2 separate regions of the Homo sapiens genome follow, and region 2 is linked to region 1. The links come from fine-mapping of genetic effects on gene expression. A gene starts in region 1. The other region holds a variant in brackets. All regions are shown on one strand. Distances are from middle to middle.

Region 1 (5,369 bases):
GGACGCTGCCCGGGCCCCGCCCCGACGCACACGCCCAGGTGCGGCTGCACTTCGCCTTTGTTCTCGCCACCTAGCGGTCCGGCGTGCCCCTGCAAGGACCCGGCAACTGCTCCCGCGCTAACCAGACCAGTGATGGATTCATTGCAATGCGGAACTTTCCTTGACTGCAAAAGTGATATTTAATATGTAAAATATCAAAAGGAAGCCGGGCGCAGTGGCTCACGCCTGTAATCCCAACACTTTGGGAGGCCGAGGCGGGTGGATCACGAGGTCAGGAGTTCAAGGCCAGCCTGGCCAACATGGGGAAACCCCGTCTCTATTAAAAATACAAAAATTAGCCGGGAGTGGTGGCACGCGCCTGTAATCCCAGCTACTCGGGAGGCTGAGGCAGGAGCGTGGCTTGAACCCGGGAGGCGGAGGTTGTGGTGAGCCGAGATCGCACCACTGCACTCTAGCCTGGGCGATAGAGCGAGACTCCGTCTCAAAAAAAAAAAAAAAAAAAAAAAAGAATCTCCTACCCTTCCCAGAGATTGCCATTGTAAACTTTCTGGGTTGTGTCCTTCCAGTGTTTTCTCTAAGCAAATAAACACACCCAACTCCCTTTCTCCCCAACCCAACTTTTTTGTGTGTTGTTTTGAGAACATAAAGATGATTATATCAATGTTATCACATTCTAGTAGTTTCTTAGCAGTGCGAATGAAAATTTTCATATTATTAGCTATTTTTATTCTTTTTCAAATTGCCTATTGATCTTTTGCAGATTTTTCTAAGAGCAGGCATTTTCTTGATTTGTTGATTTTTTTTTTTTCTTGAGCTCTAGACACTAAGAAAATGAAAGAAAGCATATACACTAAGGCTTCATTTGAGAAAACATTATCTCCAGTTTCCATCTTGAGCTCTCTGCCAGGCTACAGCTTTTACATTCATAACTTCACTGTTTTCTCTTTGGTCCAGAAAAGCTTTCCTTACCCATGACTGTATAAATAGTCATTATGGTTGGCAGCCACAGTTTCCATTGCAATGTGACAGTCTTGATTTTTCCCATGGAAAGTGTGGTATTTGTGTCCGGGCTATGAAATTGGTAATGTCATTCCTGTTTCACAGATGAGGAAACTGGGGTTCAGAGAGCGAAAGTGTGGTCCTGCCAGGAGTAGTGGAGCTAAGACTGAACCTCACACCTCGGGGCCAGCACCCAGGCCTGCTATGTCCTCTCTGTCCCTGACCTAGTGGGTAGCCAGAGCTGAGAGGACAGAGCAGAGCTTGAGAGGAACAATATTTCGTGAGGCATGTGAGGATTGAAAGCCTCATAGAGTCCTTCAGCCATGCTCTTGGCATAAGGACTGATGTGTTTATAGTGACTGGTGAATTGTCAGACCTCAACCAACCACCGTTCTCCACTGGAAGCTGATCTTGGAAAGGTCAGAGGTCCCGAGGGTCTGCAGGTGGGAAGGAGGAGACTGACATTTATTGAGCACCTACTTGGTGCCAGACACTGAAAGTATTAGAGATTAAGGGTGACTTGCCTCTGTTCTGGCCCCAAAGAAGCACCATCTGATAGAAAAATAAGTAGCAACATGGTATGGTAGAGTCTGGAATGGGGTTTACTGTGAATTGCGTAGGGCGTGGCAGAATTCACAGTAAAAGGTTTTTGGAAGAAGTGACACCATGGTGGGGTATTACTGAGCAAAGGGGAAAAGGAGGGAGGGAGAGGAGGTAAGAATATACAAGGCTCCGCTGGGCGCGGTGGCTCAGGTCTGTAATCCCAGCACTTTGGGAGGCCAAGGCAGGCGGATCACAAGATCAGGGAATCGAGACCATCCTAGCTAACACGGTGAAACCCCATCTCTACTAAAACTACAAAAAAATTAGCCGGGCGTGGTGGCGGGCCCCTGTAATCCCAGCTGCTCGGGAGGCTGAGGCAGGAGAATGGCGTGAACACGGGAGGCGGAGCTTGCAGTCAGCCGAGATTGCGCCACTGCACTCCAGCCTGGGCGACTGAGCGAGACTCCCGTCTCCAAATAAATAAATTAATTAATTAAAGAATACACAAGGCTCCACTGGGTTACTGGGTGTGCTGTAGGGAGATTTTATTGAATCCCATACTCCCATATTGGAAGAACACTCAAGCCCATTTACAGTGTGGGACTAATGCTGAGAGGTTGAGTCACATTGGCAGGAAAGAGCAGAGCCAGGAACTGAAGCTAGGTCTGTGACTTAGAGCCGGCACTCTTTCCACTGCAGAGGGGAGAGGTCTCAAGGCAGAACCTGGGGCTGTGCACACCGCGGGAAGGGCAGAGGCCCCTGGAAACGAACAGGAGCAGGAGGCCCAGGGCTGCGCAGCAACCAAGGAGGACACGAGGAAGGTGCTTGTGCCACCGGTGGAAGACGTGGCTTTGGCTTTTAGGCTCCCCTCGGGGCAGGAGCAGATCAAAGAGCCTAGCCCCAGCTTCGGTGGTGGGTGGGGGGTCCTCCCGGCAGCGGGGAGCGTGGGCACCAGCATCCTCAGCCTGCGGCTCCCAGGCGAGTGTGGGAGGGCAGAGCCCAGAGAATTGGAGGTGGGGCCAATGTGGGCCCCGCCCCCAACCATTGTGTCGGAGAGGGAAGTGGACGAGCTCCTCGGTAAGAACCAATGAGGATGTGGTATGCAAATAAGCAAGTGGAGGCCGCCAGCCGACTTCCTCGCACTGTGCAGCTGCTCCAGTGAGGGCGCAGACTGTACTGGCCTGTGCGGAGCAAGGCGGTGTTTCTGGTGAGTCTGTTGATTCTGGGCTGGGGTGAAAGCCAGGTTGCCCAGGGTTTGGGAGGAGGGCGGGTCGAGCACACGCAGATCCAAAGATGATCGGAGACAGGATTGTCCTCAGCGATTCCACCCCGATGACTCTGGAAACTGCCTGCCTGCAGACGCATGGGGGCCATGGAGCAGAGGAAGGGCTGGATGCATGAAGGAGGCGGGGTGCGGGGAGCGAGGGACCCGCAGACTCCAGGGCCACAGATGCGTGGACCTATTGGAGACCCTCAGGTTGTCTCCCCACCCCACGCAGAGAGGAATGCGCAGCTGAAGAGAGAGGTGGGCAGCAGGCCCGGTCACCTGCCAGGTGACCACATGGCCAGGTGCCGCCACCACTCGGGTTACCTGGCCGATGACGAGGCCAGCCACTCCATGTGCAGTGCACGGGTAAGTGTGCCCAGCAGGGCGCCGACCCTTGAGGCCACAACATGTTCCCCACCAACCCTGGCACCCAAGACCACAACCCCCATTTCTCATTGTCTATTGACTTCTCTGGGCCTCTTAGTGAAGTCCTTATTGCCTTGACTTCTCCTATGTCCCCCACTGCTTGCCCCTGTCACACTCAATTTCATTCCTTGTTTCCTCCTGACTTCCAGCGACCCAGAAGGTGCTTGGGTGGACTGGGACCCTAGAGTGGGAGCATGGAGTTGACTAGGTGCCTATGGCTCAAGTTGGAGAAACAGGCCCGGGTAGCACAGGGCTCAAGACCTCAGGTGTTGTCTGCACTCAAGACCTCAGATGTTGTTTGCAGCCCTGCCATGGATACAGGGATGGCCTGCTGCATGGACAGATGAGGAGCTGGAGGGAGACTCCGAGAGATTCATGATTGCTCATCCTGCCACGTGTCAGGGCAGAAGCAGGCTTGCAGACTCCTTAGCCAGGACTTGTGTGTGTGAAATGTAGGTGTTAGGAAAGCTTCGGGGTGACCCTGAATAGACCTCCACTTTGCAGATGAGGACATTGGACCTCAAGAGGGGCCATCTTGCACACTGGCATCAGGCTGTAGGTGGCAGAGCCAGGGTCCAAACCCAGGGCTTCCAGACTCCAAAATGCAGCTCCTTCCACTACTCACTCCCACCCAGGTCCTAGTGTTACCCCAGGGAACCCTTCACCTGTAGGGCACCCCTGCCCCCTGTGACATACCTGTCTGCTCAGGTGCAGCTGCCCAAGAAGCCACTGGTCCCAGAAATGCGGCCAGCCTGCAAGCCGGGCCGTGTGCCACACCCACCATCCACATGTGGCAGCTCAGCACTCCAGGGCCAACGCCGAAACAAGAGGCACCCTCAGCCCTTTGGCCACTTTCTGGATTTCCTAACTGAGAGCCAGGTCCTGGACAGCCTGGAGACAGTGGTGGAGAAGGCGACTGAGCGCATGGCTGCCATGAAGACGGAGGCTGGGGTGCCGCTTGTGGAGGTGCAGGACCCAGTGGAGGTGCCAAGTGGTGGACGGCGGGCACATGCCCGGCCCAGCCTCAGCACCGTACACCGGCACCGTGTACGGCCGACCCTCTGCACTGGACACCCCAACAACTACCCATCCAGCTCCAGCTCCATGTCCAACTGCCATAGCAGCCTCATGGCCGGCTGTCTGGGCTCCCACAGCCGGGACAGTGACCTAGGTGCCCAAGGCTCATTGCCACCTGTGAGGGACAAACTCCTGCTGGAGAAGAACCTCAAGCGGCTGCTACAGCTGGAGAGGGAAGGGGTGAGAGCCAGGGCCATGGCTGGGTGGGGTGGACTCCCATGGAGAGCCCAGGGCTAGGGTCAGCCCTGGCTTGGCTGCTCCTGAACACTTCACAGAGTCACCCTCTTTCTGCAGAAAGGCCTCAGTCAGTCCTGCTCCCAGAGGGACTCCCTGCTGTGGGATTCGCTGGGTAGCCAGACCAGCTTTCAGTGGACACAGGAGCAGCCCTTGTCCTGGTTCTCAGGGCTGCTGGGCTCAAGCTCTGGCGTGCCTGAAGCATCAGAGCCGAGGCCTGGAGAACAGGAGCCAATCTTCCGCAAGCGAGAGTTCAATAAGGAGATCAAGTCATTACTGAGCCAGCTGGAGTCCCTCGACCTGCCTGGCTACTGTCCGCTCCGTGAGCCCCATCGCACGCTGAACTTCCTGGCTGACCACCGCCTCTTCCCTGCCCTGCAAAGCGTGGTCAGCCAGGCTGTGGATAAGCTCCGTGGCGCCCACTGCCGCGACGGCCGTCCTCTGTTCCCCACCAGCTTGGAGCCCACCTCAGATCTGCCGCCTCTGGGCTCTGAGCCAGCTAAACCCACCAATGGCGGGCAGCCCTATGCTTCCCCCCGCCCCACAGTCTCCAGCCCCAAGATGCTTCAGAGAAAACGCAAGGACAGAGGAGGCTCCCCCTCCATGTCTAGTGCCCAGGTGGCCACCAGATTCAAACTCAAGGTGACACCCACGGAGAAGCCCAATGTCCCCAGCCCCTCACTCCACTCCAGGGAGGAGGCACCTGACTCAGATCCCAAATTACAAAACCCACCTGTTTCCCTGAGCTCCAGCCAGAGGGCCCAGCCCTGGCAGGGCCTGCACCTCACCCTGCCCACGCCAGGGATTGTGGTGGAGGTGGCCT
Region 2 (5,369 bases), 28 kb before region 1:
ATCCAAACTAGGATCCAGCTCTTCAGGTCAGCCATGAGTCCTGTCTGTGGTGTCCTACAGCCAGCTAGGAACACACCACAAGGACGTGCCATGTAGCAGCAGTCCAAGTCAGACAACCAGAAGACACCTTGACTTCCTCTGTGGCTGCCAGAGAGCTGTATGGTGGTCTTCCCTGCTTCACAGCAGTGACATGAAACGGTGACTTCTGTGGGATGAAGGACTCTGGGTCTTTACTTGGGAAGGGAAAACATGAAGTGGAATGGGGTTTTAGGATTCTTGAAAGGTTGCCATGGGAAAGGAAGATTAGATTTGACCACAGGGTTAGAGCTAGGACAAGTGGGTGAAAGACCCCAGATAGTTCGGTGCCATATGGCAAAGAGCTTCCTCTTAGTCTTAGCTGCCACAAAATGGCTTTGTGCCATGGGAGGTTGATATCAAGAGCTGTGAAGGATCTGAGATTTTTACCCTACTTGCAGCCTGAAAAGGTGTCCTGCCAATTTATTGGATGTTGGTGGAAGACTCGAGAAAAGGGCCAGTTCCCCTCGTCCCCGCATCCCACAAAGGTGATGAGGATGGGCCCAGATGGATACCTGCAGATGTGGGGGGTTGTGTTCCGGGACAGGAAGGCTGAGTTTAGGGGAGGTCTCAGGCCAGTCACTCAATCGTACTTCACTTGCTCCATTTCCAAATGCAAGTGATGGCAGCACTGGCTTCCCAGGGTTGGTGTTAGGGGACCAGGAGGGGCGGAATATGGGCTGGAGATGGCACGGAAAAGCACCTGGCATCTAAGTACTTGAGAAACTTTGGTCAAATTTTTTTAAATTGGCTTTCCCAGGTTGAAATGATCAACTCTTATTTACATGCATGCATTATAATGACTAGAAGCAAATACAGGAAAATGTTAGCCATACTATATATAAAAGAAAATCCACTTTAAAACCGGTATCTTTCTTTCTTTATAAATAGCAAGTGGGCCGGGTGCGGTGGCTCACACCTGTAATCCCAGCACTTTGGAAGGCCGAGGCAGGCGGATCACCTGAGGTCAGGAGTTCGAGACCAGCCTGGCCAACATGGTGAAACCTTGTCTCTAGTAAAAATACAAAAAAATTAGCTGAGAGTTGTGGTGCATGCCTGTAGTCCCAGCTACTTGGGAGGGTGAGGCAGGAGAATCGCTTGAACTCAGGAGGTGGAGGCTGCAGTGAACCGAGATCGTGCCATTGCACTCCTGCCTGGGTGACAGAGCGAGACTCTGTCTTAAAAAAAAAAAAAAAAAAAAAAAAGACAAGTGGGCTGGTCGCCGTGGCTCACGCCTGTAATCCCAGCACTTTGGGAGGCTGAGGCGGGCGGATCATGAGGTCAGGAGATCGAAACCATCCTGGTTAACACGGTGAAACCCCGTCTCTACTAAAAACACAAAAAATTAGCCGGGTGTGGTGGTGGGTGCCTGTAGTCCTAGCTACTCGGGAGGCTGAGGCAGGAGAATGATATGAGAGGCAGAGCTTGCAGTGAGCCGAGATTGCGCCACTGCACTCCAGCCTGGGCGACAGAGCCAGACTCTGTCTCAAAAAAAAAAAGACAAGTGGATAAAAAGTCTGTCCTAGAATTTAGACATGGATTGAAAAGGTGTTTTTTGATTTTTTTTTTTTTTTTTTTTTTCTGAGACAGGGTCTCACTCTTGCCGAGGCTGGAATGCAGTGGTGTAATCATAGCTCACTGCAGCCTCAAACTCCTGGGCTTAAGCAATCCTCCCACCTCGGCCTTCCAAAGTGCTGGAGTTTAAGTTTTTGAACTAGTTTAGAGTGTGTAAAATTATCATAAGGAATTAATTTACATCTCAAATGACTTCCTCAATACAGCAGTATGAGCTTAGGGAGCACAAGACAGTCAAAGGCAGGCATAACAGAAAAACACTAGTCGTGTTCATGTGAAGATAATGCTGAAATCAGCTGGGCGTAGTGGCTCACGCCTGTAATCCTAGCACTTTGGGAGGCTGACTTGGGTGGATTTTTGAGCTCAGGAGTTCAAGACCATCCTGGGCAACACGGTGAAACCCCGTCTCTACTAAAATACAAAAAATTAGCCGGACGTGGCAGCCTGCGCCTGTAATCCCAGCTACTTGGGAGGCTGAGAGACAGGACAATCGTTTGAACCCGGGAGGCGGAGGTTGCAGTGCTGAGATCCCACCATTACACTCCAGCCTGGGCAAGCGTGAGACTCTATCTCTAAATAAATAGATAATGCTAAAATCTTTGGTTTATTTGACATTGAAATGTTGCAGCTTAAGTTGGAGGCAAATTTTCTGCAATGTT[T/G]TATAATATATATATTTTTTACAACAAAACCATGTTTTTTCATTAACATCCCTTGTTATTTCTGAGTGGCCTTCCCAAAGGGCAAGTTTAGCTCTAATGTTGAAATTCACTTGTAGAGCTGTAGGCCTTTACCCGGAAGGTATATCTTATGTTTTAATTTTTGCATGCCTCTTTCACCAAAAATCTCTGGGACAGGCACATAGTTTGTGTGACTTATGCACACCTGAGCCACTCCTTTGACCATCCACAGATCCCCAGACTAGGAAAGAGGCCCAGAGAAGTTCAGATGAGTTTGGCCAAGTTCCCTGGGTGGTGAGAGGCCTGGCCTGCCTCATGTAGTAACAGAACTGCTTCTTTTTTTTCCTTCCTCTTTTTGGAAGAAAAAAGAGGCAGGATCTCACTGTCTTGTCCAGGCTGGAAGGCAGTGGCGTGATCATGGCTCACTACAGCCTTAACAACTAACAACTTAAAACTATAGCCTCAAGCAGTCCTCCTACCTCAGCCTCCTGAGTGGCTGGGACTACAGGTGTGCACCAGCAGCACGCACAGCTAATTTAAAAAAATTGTTAGCAACAAAGTGAGATCCTGTCTTTACAAAAGGACTTGTTTTTGTTTTGTTTTGTTTTTTTGAGAGAACACCTTGCTCTATCGCCTAGGCAGGAGTGCAGTGGTGCAGTCTTGGCTCACTGCAGCGGTGTGATCTTGGCTCACTGCAGCCGGTGCCTCCTGGGTTCAACCAGTTCTCATGCCTCAGCCTCCTGAGTAGATGTGATTACAGGTGCGTGCCACCACGCCCAGCTAATTTTTTGTATTTTTAGTAGAGACAGAGTTTCACCGTGTTAGCCAGGATGGTCTCGATCTCCTGATCTCGTGATCCACCTGCCTCGGCCTTTTTTTAGTATAGATAGGGTTTCTTTTTTTTCTTTTTCTTTTTCTTTTTGAGATGGATTTTCACTTTTGTTGCCCAGGCTGGAGTGCAATGGCACAATCTCAGCTCACCACAACCTCTGTCTCCCAGGTTCAAGTGATTCTCCTGCCTCAGCCTCCCAAGTAGCTGGGATTACAGGCATGTGCCACCACGCCTGGCTAATTTTTGTATTTTTAGTAGAAACGGGGTTTCACCATGTTGGCCAGGCTTGTCTCAAACTCCTGGCCTCAAGTGATCTGCACATTTCAGCCTCCCAAAGTGTTGGGATTACAGGCATGAGCCACTGCGCCCAGTCTGTTTTTGGCTTTTTTGAGACAGGTTCTCATTCTGTCACCCAGGCTAGAGTGTAGAGGTGTGATCATGGCTCACTGCAGCCTCAGCCTCCTGGGCTCTTGTGATCCTCCTGCCTTAGCCTCCCAAAGTGTTGGGATTACGGGCATGAGCCACTGCACCCAGCCAAATCTGCTTCTCTTGAGCTTTGCCCATGTGTCAGGCATGTAGGACTTTATAGTCCTTATCTCTCATCATAAACTCTGGGTACAGGCTGTTGCTACTCCCATTTTACAGATGTACAGGAACATTCTCAGACTCTTTAAGCTAGGAAGAGGCAAAGTCTGAGGCTAGACCTGCTAACTTGGGGCCAGATGGCCTCATTCATGCTTCACCCCAGCTCCTCGGACAGGACCTGGCCCACAGTGGGGAACAGGGGAGGTTGGTCAGTCCTGGACAATCAGTGAAGACCTTTAGCAGATTTCACCAACCAAAAGTCATGCAGGAAAGTGTGCGCGCGCGCGTGTGTGTGGTATGTGTGTGTGTGTGTGGTGTGTGTGTGTGTGTCTTACTCTGTTGCCCAGGCTGGAGTGCAGTGGCACAATCTTGGCTCACTGCAACCTCTGCCTCCCAGGTTCAAGTGATTCTCCTGGCTCAGCCTCCCAGTGTGCCACCACACCCAGTGAGGGAAAGCTATTTTTACATGGCTCAAGCAGTGTAAATGACAATGATGTTTACTTACTTCCCCCCACCACCACCACCATTTAATTCTCCTCTTGAAAACTAAAAGCTGGCTGGGTATGGTGCATCACTCCTATAATCCCAGCACTCCAGCACTTTGGGAGGATCACTTGAACTCAGGAGTTTGAGGCCAGCCTGGACAACATAGTGAGACGCCATCACTATAAGAAATAAAAAAATAGCTGAGTGTGGTGGCATATGCCTGTAGTCCCAGCTACTTGGGAGGCTGAGGTGGGAGGATTGCTAGAGCCCGGGAAGTCAAGGCTGCAGTGAACCGTGATTGCACCTCTGCACTCCAGCCTGGGTGACTCCCCACAGATGAATATGCTGACAGTGGTTTCAGCTGCTCGGTGGTGATTCAGACCTGGACGCGTGGCTTCAGTAGCCCTGGGGCCACACTGCCTGCCCGCAGCCTCCTGTCTTGCTCTATGCTATTCCTTCCAAGTCCCTGCCATCTAGTCTTTAGTCCTCTCTGCCTGGGAGGCCTCTTCCACTCCTCAGCCTTATGTCATCTTATCCATCCTTTAAGGCCCTTGCTCCATGCCTCCCCTCCCAGGGCAGGGCTTGGATGTAGGAGAATGTGGAGAACTGGCGCACGCCAGCCTTGCTCCCCAGCAGAGGAGCTCTGTTTACTGGAGTGCGTACTTAGGCCACGGCTTGAAGATATGGGGCTGGGGTGTAGGGCTGTCAAGATTGTTCCTGGGGCCAGGTGCAGTAGTTCACTCCTGTAATCCCAACACTTTGGGAGGCCGAGGCCGGCAGTTCACCTGAGGTCAGGAGTTCAAGACCAGGCTGGCCAACATGGTGAAACCCCATCTCTACTAAAAATACAAAAAAAAAAAAATTAGTCGGGCAGGGTAGCGGGTACCTGTAATCCCAGCTACTTAGGAGGCTGAGGTGGGAGAATTGCATGAACCAGGGAGGCAGAGGTTGCAGTGAGCTGAGATCGCGCCACTGCACTCCAGCCTGGGCGACAGAGCGAGACTCCGTCTTAAAAAAAAAAAAAAAAAAAAAAAGATTGTTCTTGGGCTCTCTGTGAAGCTTGGATTTCTTTGGGTTGGGTGTGCCATGGCAAGTGCCATGGCAGACCTGGGTGAGGGAAAAGGGAGTACAATGGGAAG

Alleles and levels. Alleles are on the strand shown, and positions count from the first base shown. SD is a standard deviation of normalised expression in the study named.
For the expression in spleen of the gene that starts at base 2,682 in region 1, allele G in region 2 goes with a lower level than allele T (moderate effect, 0.73 SD a copy in GTEx).

The links. PIP is the estimated chance that this variant, and not a neighbour inherited with it, causes the effect.
Region 2: its variant is the best candidate, but not a certain one, in a credible set for the expression of CCDC116 in spleen (GTEx, PIP 0.54).

What each region holds. Positions count from the first base shown.
Region 1 is chr22:21,630,079-21,635,447 of GRCh38, forward strand. CCDC116 (coiled-coil domain containing 116) reads left to right here and starts at 2,682. Exons shown (of 5, transcript NM_152612.3): 1 at 2,682-2,749; 2 at 3,042-3,175; 3 at 3,944-4,492; 4 at 4,607-5,188. The coding sequence starts at 3,104. RefSeq lists a silencer at 1-170 and an enhancer at 2,414-2,913.
Region 2 is chr22:21,602,274-21,607,642 of GRCh38, forward strand. The region is part of intron 2 of UBE2L3 (ubiquitin conjugating enzyme E2 L3); the gene reads left to right. Among named protein-coding and RNA genes, the nearest start is that of YDJC, 25 kb to the right of the region's middle. The variant T/G (reference allele first, on the strand shown) is at 2,310.